Linked DNA regions of Homo sapiens: regions 1, 2, 3, 4 and 5 are each reported to be linked to region 6. Evidence: microRNA targets listed by miRTarBase, many of them from high-throughput screens and not tested one by one. Region 6 holds a microRNA gene; each other region holds the end of a gene's coding sequence.

Region 1 (4,103 bases), not on the chromosome of region 6:
CTAGGAGTTTCCTGGGACCTGTCAAGAAAACAAAAATAATACTATGTACTAAACTTTAGTCTATTTAATTCCAACATCCCTATTACGAGAAAATAGACTTTGAATACTTCATCTCTCCTTAAGTCACATAGCTAACACTTCAGCCCAGTTCTGTCTGTCTGTGTTCAAACTTTTGTGCTGTTTTCACACAGGGAAGCAAGGGGGCAAGGCTTGCTTTCCTGTTGCACCACACTCTCTTACATTCTTTGCCACCCAACAATATATTCCACATGCTGGATCTCTGCCCCTTTCTTCAAAGTAAGGGCCTCTGTGAAGTGGCCAAGGTAGTCATGTCTGCATGGCTTACGCTGATTATCTGCTGTAGAGTTTGAAAGAAATTAGAAATGAGGCCTTCCATAGACAGAATCTCTCGTCTTCTCTTGCAGCCAACAGGAAGGCCGGGTGTGCAGTCACATCTCTGCTAGCTTCGGAGCTGACCAAGGATGATGCCATGGCTGCTGTTCCTGCCAAGGTGTCCAAGAACAGTGAGACATTCCCCACAATCCTTGAGGAAGCCAAGGAGTTGGTTGGCCGTGCAAGCTAATGTGGGTCCTGTGACCGCGGCAGCTCCTCAGCGGAGCCGCAGACTGTCCTGCCCTGCAGCATGTGCCTAAAGGCTCAAGGGGATATTCCTCTGGGGTGGCCACTCCCACCACCCTGACCCTGTCTTTCTCTCTGGCCTGCTGCTCTCTCAACATCACATACAGCTTCAGCTGCCTGGAGGCCAGAAGGAAAGGGCAGTGCAGGGGAGGCCTGAGCCCGACTTAGCCAGCCCTGGCTGTTGTATTACCAAAGCAGGGTCCATGTTTGCTGCCTTAACCCTGTCTCCTCTCTGTTACTCAGAGGGCCTCATCTCAGACAAGGCCCAGCCTGCTTTTTCTCAGCCCTGACTTTCTAATGGGCTTTCCCCCCTAGGTCAGTCTTGCTGGATTTGTGCTTTTCTTTTGTGGTTTCTCTGGCCCTGAGAATAGCATGGGGCTTGTAAACCTTTGGGCTAGATCCCTCCTTTCATTGCTGTTGTCTCTGCTCTTCCCTCTCCTGGCTGTGGTTATTTATTATTAGTGGTGTGGCACTGGGAGCTGCTCCTAAGGAAGCAGGGAGCAAATCCCACCTTTACCCCACCTTCCTGGGAAAGGCCTCCAAAGCAAAGGATCTGGACCAGTTTCCCTGCTGTGCTGTGGCCCAGGCCAGAGCCTGTGGGCAGGCAGGCAGGGCATAGCGACAGTGTGGGACCTGCCCCCAGCTTCTGCCACGCTTTATGCCCTTGCCTCTCTGGACGCTCTGCACCAACCCCAGGCTACTGAGCCACCTTCCCTCCTCATGCCTTCCCTGAGCTTTGGTGCATCTCATCTGGACTATGGGTTGTACTGTGACCATCCCAACACCTCACCCTCTGTCTACAAGGAAATGGGAGGTGGAGCCTCCTGGCTGAGAAATTGTTTTGCAAATGGATCTATTTTTGTATGAAAAAAAAAATTTTTTTAAAGAAAACTGTTCCTTCCCCCTTTCCCCTCCATAATGTAAGAAGCTTTGGTGGCAGGTTACAGAGTTCTGGGATTTCTTCTCACAGGCCCAATCCTGAATGTGCCCCTGGACCTTCTGGACCCTTGAGTCCAAGGCAGATCCTCTCTCCCAGGGAATCCGACACAGGAGGAACCCCTTCTCTGGTTGAGCTGGGCCAGGCCTAAGAGTAGCAGGAACTCTAAGACCACAGAGTTTTTTATAAATGTATAAATGTATCAAGCCAAATGTGCAGATGCTAACTGGACATTCTGGGGAACTGGGCACCAGGAGTGCCTTCATACACTGTACCCCAGCTCTCTTCTAAAAGAGAAGTGGGTGGGCACACTGAACTGTTTGGTGGCCCCAACCACAGGAAGCTGCAATTCTCTGGCTTAGGGTGATACTTTTGCCCTCCTTGTGCCCCTCTCAGCTTTCCATCCCCAGCTAGGAAGAAAGAATGGCACTCTTGGGCTTGGCCCAGAATTAGAGTTATTAGAGCAAGAGAGAGCTTAGGAAGCATGAGGGCAACTATAGTGAGGCCTTATTGCCAGGAGGGAGGGTTTTGGTTGCTGGCGCTTGTGTATAAAGGGGCAAGAGCAGCTCCTTTGGACTATTCCTGGGAGGACTCTGATGCAGGGCGTCTGTTGCTCCCCTGGGTCACCTCCTCCCTGCTCGCTGACATCTGGGGCTTTGACCCTTTCTTTTTTAATCTACTTTTGCTAAGATGCATTTAATAAAAAAAAAGAGAGAGAGAGAGAGGTGTGAGGGACAAAATGCAAACCTATTTCCCTTGCCTCATAGGCTTCTGGGATGTCATCACCTCCAGTTTGTTGGTTTTGTTTCCAACTGTTAATAAAGCATTGAAACAGTACTGCCTTACAGCTTCCTGTGTGAATTTCTGAGCTGTTTTCTTTTCACTCTAGTCCAGGCTCCTCTAGTCTTTCCTGCCTCAAATCCCTGGTTGACCTGACAAATCACTGTGAAAAAGCTAAAGGTGCCAGACACTTTACTTGGGCACAGGGCTAGAGATGATTAATACATGGTGGCTGCTGCCCCACCAGAGCTCACCTCAGGGCCGTTTGGCCACAGTAAAGGAGTGGGCGCCTGGTTCAGCTCCCTGACTCTTCCACATTGCTGCTACTTGGTTTGGAGCCCTTTTTTGGAACTCACTTGGAACCTTTCATGTTCCCAGATGTCACGCAAGGTTTCCTGGCAGTACCTGTGTCTCTTGCTGAGGGAAGCATCTGGCTCCCATTTTCTCATCCCCTCTGCTCTGTTGGTGGCCACAGACCACATTCCAGAGTAGAGGGGTTTACCCTGGGGTGGAAACCTGAGCCTGCCCAGCAGAGGTTGGGAGCCTGAGGTCATGCTCCAGATGACTTGCCACTTGGAGCCATACTTGTCTGAGCACGTTATGACCTGCACAAAAAAGCCAGACCAGCAATGAGCAGGCCCAGGATAGACAGGGAGAGGCCTGGAGAGGACCACAAACCCATTCGGGCGGGCTCTGGAACTGGAAATAAAAGCCTTTTAAATAGCCCTGGAGCCTGGGCAGCTGCCTCCTCAGTATGGCCTGAGGTGTGGGGATGGGTTGCCTGCCGCCTCCCTCCCGTCCCCCCGGAGGCCACGCCTTTCTGGTTCAGAGCTTTATAGGCACACATACCAATTAGGGGACAAACCACAGCTGCTCACGCGCTCTGCCAGTCTGCTGCTGTGCCTGGAATAGAACCCAGGCGCCCGGCACCCCGCCCCTCCGCAGCCTGGCTCTGAGTAACAAAACCCTGCTTCCATCTCAGCAACCGTGCACACCACCCTTCCTCCCACGCTAGAAAGTCGCCCCCAGATTCTTAAGTTGGAAGGTTTGGTTCCCATGACAACAGACTTGAGCTGGCAGAATGGGTGACCTGGCTCTGGGAGCCTCCGCAGCGCGGAGGAAGCCGCATACCCTTGCTGACCAGCCAGATAACCGCAGTGGCTCTGTCTTTGTGTTCTTGGGTCCTTCCGGGTAGTTCCCCTTTTAAGTCCCCCTTCACCCCCAGCTCCGTGTTTTTCTGCAGCTTCTCTGGCTGCAGCAACCTCGGAATCCCACAGTGCTTCGAGGAGGCAGGCGGAGGGGGCGGGGAGATGGGAGAGCAGGCGAGTGAGTGGAAAAGCACCGACAGGAAGGAGGGAGGGGAGCTGAGTCTGCGATGGATCTCATTTCCTGCACGTCCTTTCAGTCCCCTTGACCCCCGCAAGAAGAGGATGAGCCCTCCAATTTCTTAGGCTTCGCTACGGAGATGTCAGCGGGAAGGCGAATTCCAGATGGGGAAACTGAGGCTCGAGCTGCAGACTTGGCTTTGGAAGAATCACCTCCCGCATTCCCTCCCACTCCCGCGGCTTTCCCAAAACCCCTAGGCAGCGGGGGTGGGGGTGCGGGGGCAAAGGAGAGTCTACCCTCCTCCCGTGAAGCCCTCCGGGGCGCTTCGGGTAGGCAATTTTAGTCAGGAAGGGGCGGGAACTAACGAAACGTCCTCTCCCCTCTACCCAAGGCGTTTGCCCGGCGCCAACCCGCCCCCGCC
Region 2 (4,090 bases), not on the chromosome of region 6:
CACAGGTGTGAACATCCATGGAATTGAATGTTCCATGAACAAAACAAAAGAACAAATCAATTTTACTACGTGAAATTTAAAAATGTTATTAGGGGCCAGGTGCAACACCTGCAATCCCAGCACTTTGGGAGGCTGAGGTGGGCAGATCACCTGAGGTCAGCAGTTCGAGACCAGCCTGGCCAACATGGTAAAGCCCTGTCTCTACTAAAAATACAAAAATTAGCCAGGCGTGGTGGCTCACAGCTGTAATCCCAGCTACTCAGGAAGCTGAGGCAGGAGAATTGCTTGAACCTGGGAGGCGGAGGCTGCAGTGAGCCGAGATTGTGCCATTGTATTCCAGCCAGGAAGACAGAACGAGATTCCGTCTCAAAAAAAAAAAAAAAAAAAAAAAACACTTCCTGAGGGAGATGTAAGGTGACACAAAAGTTCGGCAATTCCTCCAAGAGCTGAACAAGCGGCCCAGCAGCTCTACTCCTCGGTATAAATATTCAAGAGAAATGAAAACAAATACACGTCCCCATAAAAACTTGTTCACAAATGTTCACAGCAGCATTTTCAGAGTAGCCAAAAAGTAGAAACCACCCAAATGTCCAGCAACGGATGAATGGATAAATAAGGTGTGGTGCATCCATACAAGAGATTATTCAGCCATTAGAAGGAATGAAACTCCAATGCATGCTGCAACACACAGGAACCATGAAAATATCTTGCTGAGTAAAAGCAAAGGCCACATTCACATGAATGTCCTGAGTAGGCAAATCTATAGAGACAGAAGGTAGGTTTATGGCTGGCTGTCAGGGGCTGAGCGGGAGGGAACAGTGACTGCTAAGGGAAGGTTTCTCTGCAGGGTGATGAAATGTCCCAAAATTAGGTAGTGACGATGGTACCTCTGTGGGTTTGCACAGAGCCTGTCACTTCCCCAGAAGGCCATGAGGCGGCTGGGCCAGGCCTGCCCACGGGGCTGCTCCAGAGCATTTTGTCCCTCAAGGGCCTTGGTCTGCTTCGTGGGAGCCTCTTGGTGTGGCAGCCAGTGCCTAGGGAATTGTTCCGAGTGCAGACCTCTGCCCCTTCTGCAGCCTGGAGCCCGATGCTGCTCTCACTGCGTGGGGGGTGCGGTCCTCAGCTCTTCCCCAGGTTCTCCAGACCTCCATCTCCACTGCAGGGAGGTGAGGGCCAGGAGGACCATCCGGCTGCTCTGGCAAAGGACCTCCAAGGTAGCTGCTCTGCCCCGTCTTTCAGTTGATCCACTTTTAGACTCTGCTCCATGCCAGGGCCTCCCGGTGTGGCCAGCTTCCCCCTCAGCCCTCTTCTGCTCAGCAGCCACCCACCAACCCACTTCCCACCTTCCAAAATGGGTTCAAATCCTTTGTGGGATGTTGGCTTCTTCCCCATCTTTGTCCCTGGGGGAGGATTTTTTTTTGGTCCATTCCTCTCATTTCACAGTTCCATTTCGTTTTAAGTGAGAAGAGATGACCTCAATCAATCTGTTTTAACAAACTGCAGTGACCCAGCAAAACCTGTCACATACAAACAAATCCCCAAATATAGAAGCCCAGTATGTTAAAGACAAAACTTCACAATCATTAGACGAAAACATGACAGTGGTTTCCAGCCTCAGGGAAGGTCAGGATGTTCTGAGTCGGTCGGAAATAGCACCATTCATAAAGGATAAGATCAGCTGATCATGTGTAAGGCTTAAGCTTCTGCACATCAGGAGCAACAGAAACGCAGTTCAAAGACACAACCGAGAATCCGTAATCAGGAATATCAGGAACTCCTACCAACCAGCAGAATAAGACCCAGACCAACAACCAGAAGAAAAATGAGAAAAAGACATCAACAGGCAATTCGCACGGGAGAGAATCCAAGGGAGAGGTAAGCGTGGTAAAGACGCCTGACTCCGCCGAGTCATCAGAGAAACGCACGTGACAGCGATGCCACTTCACTTCACACACAGCACGCTGCAGCATCTCAATTCCAACAACACGAAGCACGGGCAGGGATGGGAGGGATGGGAGTGATGGGAACCCTCCCCCTGGTGCTGGTGGAAGGACCGGATGCAGCCCCTCTGCAAAGCAAGCTGGCAACTGCTAAAAAGGGGAGGCCTAGAAACCACCAACCCTCCTTCCAGGTTGACAGGAGACCCACGAGAGCAGGTCTGGCTATCTCCAGTCACCAAACCCTGAAGACACGGGAAGAGACTGGAAGGTGCTCTCTAGGGAACTCACACACGGCAGTCAGAATCCACCATGTAGAGTGCCCAGCACAAGATGCATTAAAAGTAGCCAGGCTGAGTCAAAAGCCCAGCTACCTGCAGCTGACCCAGTGGATGGTTTCTGCATTTTTAATGCAATATTCTTATTTGTGAATACAGAAACGTACAGATGCAAAATTCTAAAGCCCAAAGAGAACCGGAACGCCTCAATTCCCGCCACGTGGCCTGGGGAGCTGAGGTGAGGCCGGGAAAGGGAACAGCAGGGCTCTGCAATGCTTGCTCTTTAGGCCCAGTACACACTCACGGAACACAGACAATGCCCGTCGGTCAGCTCCGTGCCTGAGTTATTTTCTGTACTTTTCTGTGGTCAACTTCTCAAACTACAGCAGTGCGTGAAGACGTCGAGAGGGGACAGCACTTTATCCTGGACCCCGATACAGATGCCCAGTAGGTCCCAGCACGGCTGCCCTGACACCGAGTGTGAAGCCGTGCCTACGCCTGCCTGCACTGTCCCAAAAACACACCACAGGGGCGGTGCAGCCAGGACCCTCGGTGTGGCCAGGACCCCCCGGGTGCAGCCAGGATGCTCGGTGGAGCCTGTGCACAGAAAGGCAGGACCAGGGCTGGCTCATCCTCATTCTGCTCTCACAGGAGTCCCTGGGGAGGCCCAGGAGAGGAGATGGACAGGGAAGAACATTCCAGAAGAGGGAACAAGGCTCGAGAAGAGGGAGCTTACATCAGGTGAGGAACAGAGAACACAGCCTGGCTAGCTAGAGAAGCAGGCAGGGGCTAGGCACCCCGTGGGGAGGGGTCTGTGAGAGGAGAGGCCAGGAGGACCCGCAGAGGGTCACCACTGCCAAGGCTGGAAGCCGCAGGCAACCTGGAATCAAATGGATGCCACTGACCACAGAGATTTGAATGGTTTAATAACTCTGTCTTCGTGAGCTGGATGGCAAGCTCTCACACTTTACCCGCAGGCTGTGCTGTGCACCTCCCACACAGTGGTCTGAGCAGAGGCGGCGTGGGACCAGACCCTCTCCCACAGCCAGCCTGGCCAAGGTGGCACAGACCAGAGCTCTGTGCAGACAAGCACCCAGGGGTCTAGGAATGCTCCCTTCTCTCCAGGGGCCAGAGGGGAGAACCAAGCTGCTCAGCCTTCCTTGCTCTGGCCAGCAGGAGGCCCTTCTCCTGGAGCAGCCCTCGTTTCTGCCTGTCATGCCCGAGGGACACAAGGCCATCCACTGTGCTCCTGCTACATGGGCACTGCTGGGATGTGCTCCCACTCTGAGTGTCCCCCACCCAGGGCCTCTCCCTTCACTGCACAGGACAGCAAGGGCAGCTTGTGCTGGGAAGCACCCGAAGACCCTCGGCCAATGCCACCACAGCCCTTGGCTAAGACCGTCTGCCAAGCCCCTCCGCAGTCTCTGAAATCTGAGGACTGGCTGGTGGCTCCTTCCCCCGTGACAGTGAACTTGGCTGCAGGCCGACACCCTCCCAAGCGCCCAAGCGCGGCCCCTGCCCACTTGTACAGTGAGACCCTGGCCCAGCGTGGTGGCCCCTCCGTGAGCCGGCTGTGCCTGGCTGCCCCCAACCCCCAGACACCAGTAGGGGGCAGTTAGAGCCCTGTCAGGTCCACAATGGCCTTGATGAAGATGGCATCGTCCCGCACGTAGGAATTCTTTGCCTCCATCTTGGAGACGGGGCAGAAGAGGGGGCAGCCGCTTGCGATGTTCATGTCGTTGACTGGCCTCTGAAAAGAGGATGAAGTCACGTCGGGCCTGAAGGCGTCAATCACGTGCTCCCGGTTATTCTGGTCGAGCAGCATTAAGGTCACCTGGAGGAGAGAGCCCCAGGGAGGGGACACAGGTCTGTGGG
Region 3 (4,000 bases), not on the chromosome of region 6:
CATCTTCTGGAAACTTCCAGTCTCTGCCACTTTCTATTTGCCCCTTATCCGTGATGCCCCAGGTCCTACGTGAACACCGAGCAAAGCCCAGAGGGATTAGGTTGGGACAGGGGTAGGGATATTCTTCTTTTTTTTTTGAGTTGGAGTTTTGCTTTTGTTGCCTAGGCTGGAGTGCAATGGTGCGATCTCAGCTCACTGCAACCTCTGCCTCCCAGGTTCAAGCGATTCTCCTGCCTCAGCCTCCCAAGTAGCTGGGATTACAGGTGTCCACCGCCATGCCTGGCTAATTTTTGTATTTTTAGTATAGATGGGGTTTCACCATGTTGGCCAGGCTGGTCTCGAACTCCTGACCTCAGGTGATCCACCTGCCTCAGCCTCCCAAAGTGCTGGGATTACAGTTGTGAGCCACCACGGGATATTCTTGTTTTGAGAGACAACTGGAGCAGCGTGGTCTGTCTGGTTAGAGATTACCATTCCTCATTTGTTCTCAGGTGTCTGGTGAAATGGCTGGAAGTTCGCTGTGTCTGCCCCATGTGTAACAAGCCCATTGCTAGTCCCTCAGAGGCCACGCAGAACATTGGGATTCTATTGGATGAGCTGGTGTGAGTGCTGCCGCTACACCGAGACCTGGAGAAGACCTCTTGCCTCATGGATGTCTGGTCCCTCTGCACAGCTCCAACCAACAGGACTGTAGGGTGATGACGATCACTTTCCCAGTGATGAGAAGGGTGGTCTAGGACTGGGCTTCTACCCTCAGTGCAAGACCAGTGCCAGATGTGCCCCCACTTCCTGCCTCCTGAAGCCTTCTTCCCTGCTACTCCATGCTGGTGGCCTCACCCATCAAGACCACTGTCTCCTGGTACTGGACTATCTACCTGCCTTGTCCCTGTTCTGGGGGAAGGTGTCCACCCCGATCAAGAACATGGAGAAAGTCCTCTTTCAAGGCTCCCATTAGGAGGATGAGCTGCCTTGACCCAGAAGGGATGAGACGGGCTCTTACCTCTCTACAACCTTCCCTCCCCTTCCCACTCCTTCCGGAGTAAGGTTAGAAGGGAAGGAAGGAAAGATCAAGGAACCAAGCGCCTCCACGGGAGGCGAGGGAGGCTCTGTATGAAACAGAAGAGCAGGGACATAAAGGAAAATGTCAGTGTTTACATGGGACCTATGGAAACAAAGGCTGGCGGGCGCCAGCTGACTCCAGAGTAAGAGAGGGCCCTTCCCCTGCCAGGACCCACGGTGCTATCCATTCAGTCTCTTCCTCAGTTAATCTCGGAGCTTCCTATTCCATGTTGAGGTTTGTGGGCCCCTCTAGAGGAGGGCTAGTTCTATACTTAAATTGATTCCCAGGGGCCTTTTTTTTTTTTTTTTTTTTTTTTTTGATCAAAAGGGGTGTGGGGATGGGGGTGTCTACGGTTAAGCAACAGATACCTCCTTCCCTTTGTAAATAGTATTTTTATACTTCATCCTCGCCTCTCAGGCTTTAGATACGAAATCTCCAGAATGGAAGGGGGTGGGGATTTTCTGTTCCTCCCTGGAGTGGGTGAGGGTGGGAGAAAGTTACATATTTAAAGAAAAATAAATTTAATAACAAGTTTCTCTAACCTACTTTTGCTTGTGGTTGTGGCTGCCTGGCCCTTTTCTGCCAGTAGAGGGAAAAAAGTTCTCAAACTGCCTCTTCTCACTTTTCCATACCCAAATCAAACACACACGCATACACACACACACACGTTCCTGATCCTTTTTAAATGTCTTTACTTTTATCTTTCTGAGGCAGGGTCTCACTCTGTCATCAAGGCTGGAGCATAGTGGCATGATCACAGATCACTGCAACCTCCCCGGCTCAAGTGATTCTCCCACCTAACCTCCCGAATAGCTGGGACCACAGGCGTGTGCCTGGCTAATTTTCTAAAATTTTTTGTAGAGACTAGATCTCCCTATGTTGCCCAGGCTGGTCTTTAACTCCTTGGCTCAAGCAATCCTCCCACCTCAGCCACCAGAGTGCTAGGATTACAGATGTGAGCCACTGCGCTCAGCCTAAAAGTTCCTAATCCTTAGGAACAAAAATCGATCTTAGGTTATTACCTGAACAATATATGTTAGGATTAACACAAGGTACATTAAGACCTTGCTAAACCAGGCTCCGTCTGATTTCTAGCATATTTTTAAAGGAAGTTGGTATTTTCAATCACAGCATTCCGTCGACTAAGACTTGAAACTAAGAATTCTACTTGTAATTTAAGCAATTGTCAGTGCCCTTAACACAACTAGTCACAACTAAAAAGGTCTACCTTTTAGTTATACCATAGAGGTTGCTACCATAGAGGCTCTGATCTCTCTTTTTTTGTTTGTTTTGTGGTGACAGAGTCTCTGGAGAGCAGTGGTGCAATTCTGGCTCACTGCAACCTCCACCTCCTGGCTTCAAGTGATTCTCCTGCCTTAGCCTCATGAATAGCTGGGACTACAGGCATGTGATACCACACCCAGCTAATTATTTGTGTATAGTAGAGACAGGGTTTTACCATGTTGGCCAGGCTGGTCTTGAACTTCTGGCATCAAGTGATCCATCTGCCTTGGCCTCCCAAAGTGCTGGGATTACAGGCGTGAGCCACCGTGCCCACCCCCTTTTTTTTTTTTTTTTTTTTTTAATTTTTGAGGCAAGATTTCACTCTGTCACCCAGTGTCACTGGAGTGCAGTGGCACAATCATGGTTCACTGTGGCCTCAAACTCCTGGGCTCAAGCAATCCTCCCACCTCAACCTCCAAGCAGCTAGGACCACAGGCACACACCACCATGCCCAGCTGGGTTTTGTATTTTTTGTAAAGATGGGGTCTCACTATGTTGCCCAGGCTGGCCTCAAATGCCTGGGCTCAAGTGATCTGCCCACCTCAGCCTCCCAAAGTGTTAGGATTACAGGGGTGAGCCACTGAGCCCAGGCCTCTTATTTTTTCTTAGCTAGTAGCTGCAATTGCTGACAATTGCTGCCACCTCTAGCAATGTTGCATGGTGATGCTTTATGGTCCTATGTGCACTCAGACCTTGCATCCATGCCCTCCAGCTTTGTTCTGTCCATGTCCCAAGGAAGCACTGAGTCAGCAGGGGGCATGCAAAGTGCATTAAGAGTGTTGGGAATGGCCTGTAATACCAGCACTTGGGGAGGCCGAGGCAGGCAGATCACTTGAGATCAGGAGTTTGAGACCAGCCTAGCCAACATGGCAAAACCATGTCTCTACTAAAAATAGGAAAATTAGCTGGGCATGGTGGCGCACCCCTGTAACCCCAGCTACTTTGGAGGCTGAGGCACAAGAATCACTTGAACCTGAGAGGCGGAGGTTGCACTGAGCCAAGATTGCACCACTGCACTCCAGCCTCAGCCACAGTGAGACTCTCTCTCAAAAAAAAAGTAAAAATGTTGGGAATGATTTTCGTGACCATAATAAGCATGGAGCAGCTGGGCCTATACTGCCCCTATGTGTTGAACAAGAGCGTTTGCTGAATAAGTATACTGTTCTGGTGTCATAGGTAAGCAGGAGATGCCCATACACCCAGAGGTTCCAGGCCCCACAGGTAGGTGCGATGCCTTCTCACCCCTGTTGTTGCACCATGGAGGCTGTCAGCACAGTGTGTGCTCATGCTGGGCAGTCCCGAGGTGCAGCTGGGGCACCTGGCAGTCCTGGTGCAGTTGTTGATACCTGTCTTGATGGAGTTCTTTGCCCAAGGGTACACCTGTTCTTACCACCTATTTTTCCCTCACTGAGAGGTAACCCCTGCTCTTCCTTGAAGCCACCAGCTCCAGCTTGCTGCTGCCAACCCTATGGAGCCTGATCCTTTCTTTGTTGGGGGTACCGCATCATCTCCCAGCAACCCTCAGCTTGCTTTAATGTGGGAAATAAAATGTGTTTCCTAAGCAAAACACAGAGCCTTCCCTCCAGCTCCTGCTGCAGCCTCATGGTAGATGCATTGCTGGGATCAGATGGGGAAAGTATGATCAGTAGGTTGGCT
Region 4 (4,094 bases), not on the chromosome of region 6:
TTTCAGCTCCAAGGGCCTCACCTTCCTGCCGCCACCTCCTAGGACAGCCAGTCCAGGGCCATGAAGACCAAGAACCGGCCCCCACGGCGCCGGGCCCCGGTGCAGGACACAGAGGCCACCCCCGGGGAGGGGACGCCCGACGGGTCCCTGCCGAACCCGGGGCCAGAGCCGGCCAAGGGTCTGCGGAGCCGGCCGGCCCGGGCCGCAGCAAGGGCTCCGGGCGAGGGCAGGCGCAGGCGGCCAGGACCCTCCGGGCCCGGTGGCCGTCGTGACAGCAGCATCCAGCGGCGGCTGGAGAGCAACGAGAGGGAGCGGCAGCGGATGCACAAGCTAAATAACGCCTTCCAGGCCCTGCGTGAAGTCATCCCCCACGTGCGCGCGGACAAGAAGCTCTCCAAGATCGAGACGCTCACGCTGGCCAAGAACTACATCAAATCGCTGACGGCCACCATCCTGACCATGTCCAGCAGCCGCCTCCCAGGCCTGGAGGGGCCGGGCCCCAAGCTCTACCAGCACTACCAGCAGCAGCAGCAGGTGGCTGGGGGTGCGTTGGGGGCCACGGAGGCCCAGCCCCAGGGCCACCTGCAGAGGTACTCCACGCAGATCCACAGCTTCCGAGAGGGCACCTAGCGCCCAGTCCTGGGTGGGGGTGGCGGTGGCCGCAGCTGCCTGGCCTGCTCCTCCCAGCCCCAGTCCCTCCAAGCCACGAGCCCCAGATGGGCGGTGACACCCCACAAGGACACGGCCTCAGCGGTTCCATTTTCCCCCGAACATTCAGCCACTTCCCTGGAGCAATTTTTCCTGCCCCGCTGGGGACCAGCGAGTGGCCTAGTTGCGGCTGTGGCCCTGGACAGCGGCGTGAGGCCCAAACCTCTAGGTAGGGCCCAGTTGGATCCTGATTTTTCATTGAGCCAGGCAGTCTCAGCCCGAGTTGAAAGGCCTCCTTAGCCTTGGAACTAACGTCTCTTCACCCTGACTTCTGGGCAAGGGGAGATCCCAGGAAAAGGTTTACCTGCAGGTTTTCCAAGGCCAAAGCCCCAGCAAGGACCCCCTCTCCAACCTTTGTTATAGGGCTACATGGGGCCTGGGCTCAGCATCCTCATTTGGGGTAAACTGAGGCCCGGGACAAGCCCGGCAGAGCCTAAGGCTGCTCGGGGAGTGGGGCCAATCAGAGATGATTGGAGCTGCCAGAAACTCTAATCAGATGACCTCCAATTCATCCTTAAAAGTTGAATGGTGGGGAGGGGCTGGAGTCTCTTCCTCCCTCCTCCCAAGTTGGGGCTCCTGGATGTGTTGACTCCAGGCTGTGCCTGGTTGTGGAGGGTCTGGGGCAGGGTGTGAGGGGTGCTGTGGAACTGGAGCAGGAGACAGGGCTGGGTGTTCCTGGTGCAGCCCTTCTGGGCATGGGAGAGAAGCCCCAAGGCCCTGGGTTGCTCCCCAAGAGCAGCTCTGAGGCCTCCTGCTCAGCCCTGGCCTGTGTGGGGAGCGAGTGTGCCCCCCACCCAGCCCCTGCCACCGCCGTTACTTATTCTCACTGATGTGGGGTTATCATATAATTGGCACCATGCTGTCTGTAGGACATTATGACGTGCTTGGGTTCTGGTTTGAGTTGGCAGCCCGTTGGGTCTCTCTGCCTGGTGGAGCCTTGGGGTGGCAGGTACGTCCCTTCCCCCGCCCAGGTGCTTCATCCTCATGGCCAGGCCTGGTGGCTTGGCACGTCTCTGCTGCCCCAAGCCCAGCTTCCTTCTGCTGGGCGTTCCTGCCCCACTGGCTCTGCCGGACTTGGCTACTGGACTCTCCCCTCCCTCATGCCTCTGCCCAGAGATGTCCCAAAGGCCCTCAGGGCCAAGCCGGGCCAGGGATGTGGCTGCCACAGCTGAGACCAAGGGCTCTGGCTGGCCCGTCCCCACCAGGTGGCCCTGCCCTCCCCAAGTTGGGGGTTGTGGCACTTGGGGTCAGGCCTAGCCACGTAAGGACACAGGTAACACCCTGAGGATCTGGCATTGGCAGCTTCAGGCCTAACTTTCCTGGTCAGGGCCCCTTAAGGTGGCCCGGGCACATTGGTTTCATTTCGATGAGACTTTGTCAGAGGCCTGGTCTGGTCCTGGCCCTACCGCCCCAGCTGTCCTTCAGCACAGCTCGGGGTGGGGACTCCAGGATGCTGGGTCTGCCCCTTGGGAGGGGCACTCTGGAAGGTCAGGGTGATCCACAACTGTGAGCTGAGGTTGGATGCAGCTGGGAGCTTGGGACAGAGAGAGCCCAGGGCTCCCCTGCTGTGGGGCACCTGCCCAGCGGGGACATGAGATGACAGAGACCTCCCCGGCGGGGGTACTCAGGTGCTACGAACATGGCAGCTCTTGTTTCCGGCTGAGCCATGGCCAGAGCAGGGCTCAGTCTGCCCCTGAACTTGCTGAATGGACCGACGAGCTGAGCCTGAAAGCCCAGAAGAGCCTCGGTCCAGAAGACGGAGACTCGGCCCGGTGTCCAGCGCAGCCCAGGGCTTCCTGGGGGGCAGCAGGAGTGCCTGGGGGTCACCGCCTTCAGGACAATGGCCTCAGTGGCTCTTTCTTTCTGCCCTGAACTGGCACCTGCACCTCCTCTGCTTCCTAGAGGGTGACCTGGGCCGAGCCGCCCAGTCCTTCTTCCCCTGAGGCCAGAGGGGACGCCCCGCGGCCACATCACACAGGATCCTCAGCAGCCATAGTCTCGCTTCAGGGTGTCCAGTGTTTCGAGGAGGAGAGGGGACAGGGGCCAGGTCCACTCCCTTGGCCCTCCTCTTGGACCCCAAGGCCAGGCCGGATCCTTTTATCCCGTGGGGAGCCCCTGCCTCGGCCATCGGGATGAGGTCCCTCAAGTCCCTGCACAAGCAGGTCAGAGACCCACCCACATGCCGTTCCTGGGCTACGCCACGCGCCATCCCCCGGGGCTGTGGACGCACCCAGCCCCCGACAGACAGGCGCCCTGAGAGCTCCGAAGGCGCGATCCCCATCCCCACCAGTGGAGAAGCCAGAACCGCGATTGTTGCATCTGGGAAAACCCAGCTGGAGCCGAACGGCCCGTGCCCCCACTGTAATTGTGCTGAAAATGTTTCTCAAATGACCCAAATTGGCTCTTATTTTTTCTAATGGCCCTTTCAAAGTATTCATGAAATTGATGCTGTGTCATAAAACAAAAATAAAAGATTTCACAGCAATGTCTGCTTCAGGCACACGGGGAACCACGCGTTTTAATCAACGTATCGATAAAAAACACCAGGGCACGGACACTCCAGGGGAAATGCTTATTGAGTAAAGTATCCGAGGAAGTGATGCAGGGCAGGTAAACAGCTGGTGCTCAGCAGCGAGAGGACGCGTCACTCTGCCGTTCTGCAGGGTGACGCCCTCCCCGTACCTCGCTGAGAGCCACCTGCAGACACAGCAGGCCACAGCAGAATGCACAGGTCACTGTTGTAGGGGAACAAATCGTAATGCCCAGAGAAAACCTGATAGTGAAATGTAAACAGACAGGACAGGGTGGTTCCAGGTGGCCACCACCGCCAGGCCCTTCCCGTGATTGATCTGAGAGCTTCACAGCCGGCGGCACTGGGACCCATTTCCAGAAACACTGGAACACCAGGTCTCTCAGATGCCCGCGGGAGGGGCCCCAGGGAGGCCTTTCTCAGCATCAGCTTTTGGGTGACAAACCCCATACAGCAAAACTGTACAAATACACACAACGGACCCCCAGCTGACAGTGAGACCAGGACCCTAGGAAGGTCAGGTGGTGGTGAAGTCATCCCCTCTCCAACCGAGCAGAGCCTGGGGTTGGGCTCTGATGACCTCCCGGGCAAAGTGTCCAGGTGGAGGAAGCAAACTCCCAAATGGGGCACAGAGGTAATAAAAAGCAGCTGAGAGACTGCGGGATGGGGTCGGGGCCACTTGGCCGACACCTTCTGCCTCGCCTGGCCGGGCCGGGCCAGCCTCTCGCCACAGGATGGAGGGTGACTGTGCACCCTGCTCCATGTACAGGACGGGCTGAGGGTCCCATGGCCACTGCCGACAGACACAGTAGTACTGCTCCCCACAGAAGCCCGCAGTCTGCACCCTCCTACAACA
Region 5 (4,103 bases), not on the chromosome of region 6:
ATTGAATCAAAGTTGTCTTCTAAACAAAATAAAAATGTACGTTCCATTACTGTTTACAAAACAAAAAGCACAAACATAATTATGGAATAAATAAAAAACAAGGGACAAACAGCCAACTGACTCTACCCACTTGGTGAGAAGTGATATACTTCAACTATTTTTTTAATGCTTCTGAAAGTTTCTTGGCCCACAGAGGACTAGGGTGCAATCATTCCCTGTGTTAGTGAGTTGGGTTTAATGCAGCTTCAAAATTAGGGTAAAGGGACTTGGTGAAATGTTTACATTAAATATTTCACTCCTACCCATTCTTCAGGAAAAAAGGTGAGCTCAGCAAGGCTGGATGCCATTAAGAGATATTTACTGTTTTCTTTTTCTATAGCTAAAAAAGCAAACTTTACACGAAGAAGCTCTTGATTAAGGAAATTTCAATAGATTCATATTTATAAAATTTTAAACATTTGGCACAGCAAAATTTGGAAAAAATGGGGGAGAAAAAATAGGTCTGGTTGTTGTCCCCCTTTTTCCACCTGCTGCTGGACAGTGATGAGATGCTCACAGAAGAAAAAGGCCTGGCTTTGTACCAGGCTGGCGACAGGTGCTACCAGGAGTGGGCTGAGGGGAGAAAAACTATCTCCCACTCTTTTGGCCCAGGCAATGTCAACGACTTCCACATTCCCTGGCCCACTTCCTGAGCAACCCCAGGTTCGGCTCTGTATAAGGACCCTCCCCTCCCAACCCCAACCCCAGAGTGCAGTGCAAATCAACCAACAATTTACTGGTGGAATGGCAATCAAAGGAAACAGTTAAACACCAAACAATTTCTTAAAGCCAAAAAATATTTTTCATGGAGTTGAACATTTTTCGAGTGTGTTTTTTTCAAGTGTAAAAGCAGTGACATTTTGTTCAAACAGAAGCAGCATCTAGGAATTCTGGCACTTGGGTTCTAGGGGGTTACAGGTATGCATCATGGATTCTTCTCCCTCGTATTTAAAAAGGCCTCGTGTTTCTATTCCTGAGTTCATACCAACACCTGCTAGCTCTCCCCTCTAGCGGACAGTGGGTGGCCAGCCAGCCTCCCTGGTTAGATTGGGCAATGCCAAGCAGACATCCCTCATTCACCTGCTGGGCTTGCTTTCTGATTCAGAGGTAAGTCGAAGTGCAGAGAAAGAAACTTACAAAAGCACAACCACCAAAGGCAGCCTGAACGGGGAGCCCTGTGCAGACTGAGTTGCTGGAGACTACCCTCTCAGTCCCATTCCTGGGGAAAGGTAGGTCACTCATGGAATTTGAATCAAACATGGGGGAGGACACCTGCCAAGCAATAGTATGATGGACTCAAGTCATCCCAGGCCATCTACTGTCTCCCTCACCTGCCCTAACCTTTTCTGAGTCCCTCCCTCTCTTGTGCAAGCACTGTAGTTTAAAAAGGAAAAAACACCCCCCACCATTAAAAGACAACCTTCAAATGTTACTCAGTATATAAAGTTTGCTTAGGCTAAGGTGGAGTCAGAAATGTCTCTAATTGTAGACACCATCTCTGTGCCACCCTTCCTCTCATCGGATATGGAGTGATTTCTTCTCTCGCTGCTGCGACGCAGATCTGAGCCACAGTCAGGTACCAATGTACACGACATAGGCACATGTGCAAACACAAAGAAGGTGGGCTGCTGCTTCTTTCTCTCTGCCCCTAGTCCAGGCTCCTTTGCTTCACGTAAGATTAACACTTTCCCATTCCTCTGAAGTTGCTGGAAGGACATTTCCCAGGAAGAAACAATTCCTCACTGCCTATAAACTGTAGTCTCATGTGGGATAGTCAATTGAACATGAGAATCAGAACAATCTGGGCAAATGGGTATGGCAAGAATGGGAACACCACAACAGGACAGATGCCAACTCTCATTCATGCCAGGCCTTTTGGCATCTGGGTGCCTTCTGTGTCTTCTTTCCACCTCTTCCTTCAGTCTCAACATCCACTTGTACCCCCAGCTACCTCCCATGTTTCCAGGTATCATTGGCTCTTAACTCCCACAAGCCTGCCTTTTGGCTACCCATCCCAACAATATCAAGAGGGAATGACTAAGTATCAGCTAGAAACTTAGCCATGTCTCAACATTCCTGGATTATCTGAAAAGCTGTCGATGCCCTTTTACAGGTTTATGGTGACAGACCCGTATCATCTTAAAGTATGTTCATAGTTAAGGCTTGACTTAAGAAAATAAGAGAACCAGACATAATGGAAAGACCTCTTCAATAATGTTGTCATGCCTCTCAGTGAACGTGCTCACAGTCACACTTGGTTTGGCTCCCCAAACCCACAATAGAAAAGGAAAAATGAGTATTTTGTTTTTCATCTGTTTTGTATTTAAAGGCATTGGGTTACTTCCTCCTGCCCTCTTTTCTTCCCTGAACAAGAGTTTACAACTCCTCATGGCTTCTTAATAGGTGAAGTAGGTGAAAAGTCTGAGAAGCTCACAGCAGGGTTTGCCGTCCCAACTATGCAGCTGAGAGGTCGCCAGCTCCTGTGCCTTCCCAGCCCCACTATAATTGGCAGTATGTTTGTTCATGTTTCCTGAAAACATTTTCTTTAAAAAGGAAAAGAAAAAAATGCCAAACAACACCAACCAAAAAAAAAAAAAAAAAAAAAAGAAGGAAGAAGAAAAAGAGCAACATCCAAACATTCCCCAAGCCCCACCCCAGTAAGTCTGAGATTATCTTATTCCTTCCCTGAAATAATTATAAAGAAGCATTTCAGGCAAAATACTTAGTATTAATGGTCTCTTACTGCTCAACCTCCCAACCATGCCCTTTTCCCTTTTATGTGTATCTCTTGGAGTAAAATAAATTCATTAATGGCTTTCCACATACAAATACAATAGAAAAGAAAGAAGTCTGGAACCTGACTATCATGGGACCAAAAAGTATCTTGGCCCTTTGGGAGTTTCCTTGTCAGAAAGTATAAGCCTCAACAGGAAATAGAGGCTCCTTCTCCTTTGAGTTCAATACCCTCCCTGTGTCCTACTCACCAGGAAAATAAGTGTGTTCATATCCCACCTAATTTACAACAGAAGATAACCCCATCCCATCCCCAAAACATAAAAATACAAGTCTATGCCCCTAGAATGATCAAACCAGTTTAACTCCCTCCCCCCCACCCTGAAATCTTGCTACATAAATACATGTATGTATTTGATTATAGTATAAACAGCTCCTAATCCACTTCCAGTTCTAAGCATCAGCAGCTGCTGTTGCCAAGCCCTGGGGTCCTGACCCATTCCAGAGAAACTTGCCACTCTTGCTCAGCTCTCGGGCTTCAGGGTCATCATTCCAGCGCCGCTTCAACCGAAGCTTGGGGGGCATCAGTGCATCTTCTTTCTTCTCAGGTGCACTGGGCTCTTTGCCAGGCCTATCCTCACTGTCTTCAGTCACCTCCAGAGGTTCTCCACTTGGGGTGCTAATGGGCACAGAGGGCCAGATGGGTGGTGCAGCAGGACGGGCAAAGATGGTGCCTTTTTCCTCTTCAATGGTCCTGCTTGGCACAGTGCCCTCTTCTTGAGTGTGCTCCTCCTTCTCTCGTGCCGACTGCCTGAGGCTCTCAGGATCCTTTTCAGAGGCAGGTTCCACCTTGATTCTTGGGGGAATAGAAGCCATGGTGGGCGTGGTGACTGGTGCTGACTCCTCGCTGCTCTCAACCCTCTCCCGGTTCTTCCGCCCAACTGGTGGGGGCTGCAGCTTGATGGAGAACTGAGTTGACTCCTCAGGATGCATTTGGCACTGCAGTGGTGGAACCATGAGCCCTGGGTAACGGGGAAAAGTCCGAGGACTCAGATGGTAGTTGAACACAGAACAAGCTTGAGAATGAAGGTAGTGTTTCATTTCCTCAGGGTTGAAGGAGAAGCAGCTGCTGCTGGTGAAAGGGCTCAGGCCTGGTGATGGGCTATAGGAGAAGATGGTGGGAGTCAGGGAGAGGGCTGGTGAAATGGGGACATTAAGGACACCTCCGCGGCCAGGGATTGGAGAGACAGCGAAGGGACTGTGGGGGTCAGGGTACATCCCTGGCCTAGCAAACAGAGGAAGCATTATGTCAGGCTTGCGTTTCTGATGGC
Region 6 (4,103 bases):
TGCCCTTCAGTGGGTGAGGATAAATAAACTTTGTGCCTCCAGACAATGGAATACTATGCAGTGATAAAAAGAAATAAGCTGGTTACTATATGGGATAAATGGGGAAAAAAATGAAAGAAAAGAAATGAGCTATCAAGTCATGAAAAGATATGAGGAGCCTTAAATGCATAGTGCTAAGTAAAATAAGCCATTCTGAAAAGGCTGCATAATGTATGATTCTAACTATATGACATTCTGGAAAAGGCTAAACTATGGAGACAGAAAAATGATCAGCGGTTGCCAGGGGTTTAGGGTGGGGGAGGGGGGATAAATAGGCAGAACTCAGAGGAATTTTAGGGCAGTGAAACTATTCTGTATGATACTATAATGGTCATGCATGTCATTATACACTTGTCAAAACCCATAGAGTATATAACACAAAGAGGGAACTCTAATGTAAACTATGGTTTACATTAATAATTATATTTAAACTATTATTTAATAATAGTTATAATACATTATAATTATACTATTATTTAATAATAATGTCTCAACATTAGCCCATCAATTTTAACAAGTGTACAACACTCATGCAAGATGTTAATAGCGGAAACTGGGGTGTCTCGAGAATATATAACAACTCTATACTTTCCATTCAATCTTTTTGTAAACCTAAAACTGCTCAAAAAAGTCTATGAATTTTTAAAATATGAAAAGAAACTAAAAGAGCCATTTACACATAAGGAAATTTTGATGCTAAAAATCATCCTGTGTAACACAGAAATCCCCCTAGTAATGACAGAATAGAAATTTTAAGTCATTTAAACCAATGGTTCTCAAACTTCAGTGTGCATCAGAATCACCTGGAGGGCTGTTAAAACACAGATTGCTGGGCCCCACCCCTGACTTTCTGATTACCTAGGTCTGAGGTGAGGCCTGAGAGTTTATTTCTAACAAGTTCCTGGAGGATGCTGATGCTGCTAGTCTTGGGCATCAAGAGAGGTATAAAGTCTGATAAAATAAGACTAAGGCTGAGCAGTAACCAAAATGAGATTTTAGAGTATACAAAAGATAAGGAGCACATATTAAATAACCTGAATCTTTACTGCAGGTTAGATTGGGAGAATCTGGGAGAGAAGAAGGACCAAGGATCAGAATCTATAAGTCCCAAATGTTTAAGAACTTGAGGACTGAAATGGAGTGTGTGTCTCTTTCTGTCTCTGTCACCACTATTTATAATACTGTATTGCTACGCTGACCTGAACACTATAAATTTGCAATGGGCAATGAGCAAAAATGATAAGATGGGGAGGAATGAATAGATCAGCTTAGCTAAGAAGAGAGTAACAACTGAAGAATACTGCTGAGGTCACAGTAGAAAGCACTCAGGCTCAGGCGCTAAGGATGGGAGGAGGGGAGTGAATCAGATCATGGGCACCTGTACTCCCTAGGTGAGAGAGAGAGAGAGATGGAGAGACGGACAGAGAGAGCGATAGACTGAAACAGAGACATGTATAGTCCATCTCTATTTGACTAAAGTAAGGTAATATAAAGATATAGGCTGTTCTCATTTCCATATTGTGTGGGGTGCATACAAGATCAGCAATAAGAAGGGTCCCTTGCTCTTCACCCCCTCTAATTCAAGAAGAGTCTGTAATAGACATCTAAAGGCAGCTCACAGTTCTACTCAGGATGTCCTGGAAGATAAAGGGCAGCTTATAAGCTCAAACTCCTATACATTCTGTAAGTGTAAATCTTCATGAATGTGTGCATCTCCCTGTCCTCAGAGGGGACAGAGTGGGGGGAATAGGAAGACTCTCTCTTTGGCCCCCATCATTTGTGCCCGTCTGAATTTTTCTTCTAAAGCTGCCCATCAGAGAGCACATCCAGTGATTTTGACTCTCGTTTGTCACTGCATCCTTAACACTAAAAAGAGTATCTGTCACACTCTAGAAACTCAAGATATAGGAAGGCAAGAAAAGAGACATATATGCACTCAGTCCATATATATACATATAGGTAGGCAAGGCTCCATCTCATTGAATCCTTGGCTTAATACTTGAGACAGCACTCACATCTAGGTTGGAAGGAAGTGAGGGAGCAAATCAGAAGGCTCTGGTTCCCGCCCACCACCCTGTGTGTGGACAGCAGGTGGGGAACACAGAGAAAGCTCACTGTCTCACTCTGGATACCTGCATACATGGACATTATTTAATAAGGACATTTATTCTAATACACAGACAAGCCCACCAGAGCACCTGAAGTCCCTAACTATTCTGTTCTGTGCTTCCCCAACACACACCCATCACTCAAAAACTATGACAGGGGAGGGTGGGAGGGGTGATGTCTAGGCTCTCTGTCCTTCTTGGTACAGTTGAGCTCCCCCTCTCTGAATCCTTGCCCAGGTGCATTGCATTGAGCCAGCACTAGCACCCAGATAGCAAGGATTAGAGAGGGGGAGCAGGGCAGAAGGCTTGGGCACCTGCCGTGCTCGAAGCAGAGAAGGTTCTCTGTTACACAGCTCTGTGTGAGAACAGGAATGAGAGTCTTGCATTGTGTATATGTTGGGAGAGGGTGTCAATAAGAAGTCCCATGTTGTGGCCCACACTAACTCAGCACGTGCAGGAATATTAGGTGACAAAAAGTCAAGTCTCCTACACATATTCTTTGAGGCAAGAACCAAGTCCATCTTGTGTGATACCATATGCCCACTGCCCTGGCAGCACAGCGTTAGCATGTACTAAGTGCTCAATACTTGTGAAAGGGAGGTAGAGGGGAAGGAGAGGGAGGAGGAAGTGTGACTCACAGGCACTTTGTCTGTCTATGGGCAGAAAAAGGCCCCTCTGAGAGTCCTGGAATAGGTGCTGCACTGAGACAGCATGCACATTTAGGTGGCAAGGATACAAGGGGAAGCAGAGCAGCAGGCTCAGGATGTGCACACCACATATATTTGCACAGGTACCCATGTCTGTGGGAGGGAATAAAGAAAAGCCTGATTTCTGGCACCCTGAGCCCATGTATTCACAGGAAGTTGGATGACATGAGGATGCTTATTCTCCATGAGCCTGCTAGACAGTAAGGTCGGCATCTCTGACAGGTTAGTTTACTGTGGCATTCCCAAACAGCAGGAATTCAGTAAATTTGTTAAAGGGATGAATAAATGAATGGACCAAAAACATGCACACACAAATGACTGACTGAAAGAATGAACAAAGGAAAGAGAAGGGATGGACAGGCTCTGTCCTACACATAGGCAAGGCTCACAAGCTGGTATCCTTGCACAAGCCCATTGCACTGCTAAGACAGCACTTGTGCCTAGGCTGCAAGGCTAGGAGAGGGCAAGCAAAAATCAAAGTCCAGGCACCTGCACACCAGGCATGCATCTGAGTGTGTGTGGCAAGGAAACTTGCAGGCAAGTTTAGATAATAAGGCTCCTTCCTTTCAGCTTTGTACAGAAATGTTTCTACACTTACACATGTGTGTGTGCACATGCATGCACAATGTGAGCATGTGTATTCATAAGAGAATGAGAAGGCTCAATTCCTGACACACCTGTGTCTGTTGCCTAGGCCTGGGGAAGTCTAGGCACCTAATACCTCCACTAGATAGGAAGTCCCGGAGAGAGACACTGTCCATTATTTAGCAGGGTACTCCCAGCACAGCTCATGGCACATCAAAAGTGCGCAATAAACACGGGCTACTTGGATTGTTCAGCAGAAGATTCACGATGACAAGGCTCACCCTCCTGTAATCCATGCACACAGGAGGTGTTTTGAGAATTCACAACTCCGATATGCAATGGGTATGGGAGAAGGAGCAGTTCATTCTTCTGCACATGGGAGGGGGGTGGGGGAGGAGAGAGAAAGAAAGACAGAAAGAGAGAAAGAGAGAGAGAGGAGAGAGATTGATTGATTGATTGAGAGAGAGACAGATTGAGATTAAAGTGTCAGGTGCACGCCTGGAGAAGCAGTGCCAAGTCTATTCCCTAATAAAGTACTTGTTGTGTGTTCACTTAGCCTCATGTGCTCACTGAATGTGTGGTTATGGAGGAGGTGGAGACAGTAATGAAATGATGGCTTCCCTGCCACAGTCTGCATGGACTCGGCATTGGGAACGTACATGAG

The links. The annotated mature microRNA hsa-miR-502-5p reads AUCCUUGCUAUCUGGGUGCUA and lies in region 6 at 2,407-2,427, opposite strand. An mRNA with a match to its seed (bases 2 to 7 or 8) in the 3' UTR can be bound and repressed. Matches are read on the target gene's strand: a 7mer-m8 pairs with bases 2 to 8, a 7mer-A1 pairs with bases 2 to 7 and ends in A, and an 8mer does both.
Region 1: miRTarBase lists DIAPH1 as a target of hsa-miR-502-5p. Seed matches in the 3' UTR shown: 7mer-A1 at 1,440-1,446.
Region 2: miRTarBase lists TRAF2 as a target of hsa-miR-502-5p. Seed matches in the 3' UTR shown: 8mer at 3,372-3,379.
Region 3: the mRNA of RNF122 is a reported target of hsa-miR-502-5p. Seed matches in the 3' UTR shown: 7mer-A1 at 1,069-1,075.
Region 4: miRTarBase lists BHLHA15 as a target of hsa-miR-502-5p. Seed matches in the 3' UTR shown: 7mer-m8 at 1,041-1,047.
Region 5: the mRNA of ETV3 is a reported target of hsa-miR-502-5p. Seed matches in the 3' UTR shown: 7mer-A1 at 2,940-2,946.

What each region holds. Positions count from the first base shown.
Region 1 is chr5:141,513,331-141,517,433 of GRCh38, reverse strand. DIAPH1 (diaphanous related formin 1) reads left to right here. Exons shown (of 28, transcript NM_005219.5): 28 at 426-2,413. The coding sequence ends at 583. LOC124901091 (a long non-coding RNA gene) reads right to left here and starts at 426. Exons shown (of 2, transcript XR_007058971.1): 1 at 1-426. RefSeq lists enhancers at 145-770, 771-1,396, 2,023-2,648, 2,620-2,869, 2,649-3,274 and 2 more.
Region 2 is chr9:136,925,642-136,929,731 of GRCh38, reverse strand. TRAF2 (TNF receptor associated factor 2) reads right to left here. Exons shown (of 11, transcript NM_021138.4): 11 at 3,125-4,049. The coding sequence ends at 3,831. Among named protein-coding and RNA genes, the nearest start is that of FBXW5, 17 kb to the left of the region's middle.
Region 3 is chr8:33,545,359-33,549,358 of GRCh38, reverse strand. RNF122 (ring finger protein 122) reads left to right here. Exons shown (of 6, transcript NM_024787.3): 6 at 492-1,605. The coding sequence ends at 606. Among named protein-coding and RNA genes, the nearest start is that of RNF122, 20 kb to the left of the region's middle. RefSeq lists a silencer at 3,449-3,518.
Region 4 is chr7:98,212,250-98,216,343 of GRCh38, forward strand. BHLHA15 (basic helix-loop-helix family member a15) reads left to right here. Exons shown (of 2, transcript NM_177455.4): 2 at 7-3,208. The coding sequence starts at 61. The coding sequence ends at 630. It overlaps TECPR1 (tectonin beta-propeller repeat containing 1), which reads right to left. Exons shown (of 26, transcript NM_015395.3): 26 at 2,375-4,094. Among named protein-coding and RNA genes, the nearest start is that of BHLHA15, 2.9 kb to the left of the region's middle.
Region 5 is chr1:157,121,616-157,125,718 of GRCh38, forward strand. ETV3 (ETS variant transcription factor 3) reads right to left here. Exons shown (of 5, transcript NM_001145312.3): 5 at 1-4,103. The coding sequence ends at 3,226. Among named protein-coding and RNA genes, the nearest start is that of ETV3, 15 kb to the right of the region's middle.
Region 6 is chrX:50,012,937-50,017,039 of GRCh38, reverse strand. MIR502 (microRNA 502) reads right to left here and starts at 2,442; the gene lies at 2,357-2,442. The region is part of intron 3 of CLCN5 (chloride voltage-gated channel 5); the gene reads right to left. MIR660 (microRNA 660) reads right to left here and starts at 3,799; the gene lies at 3,703-3,799.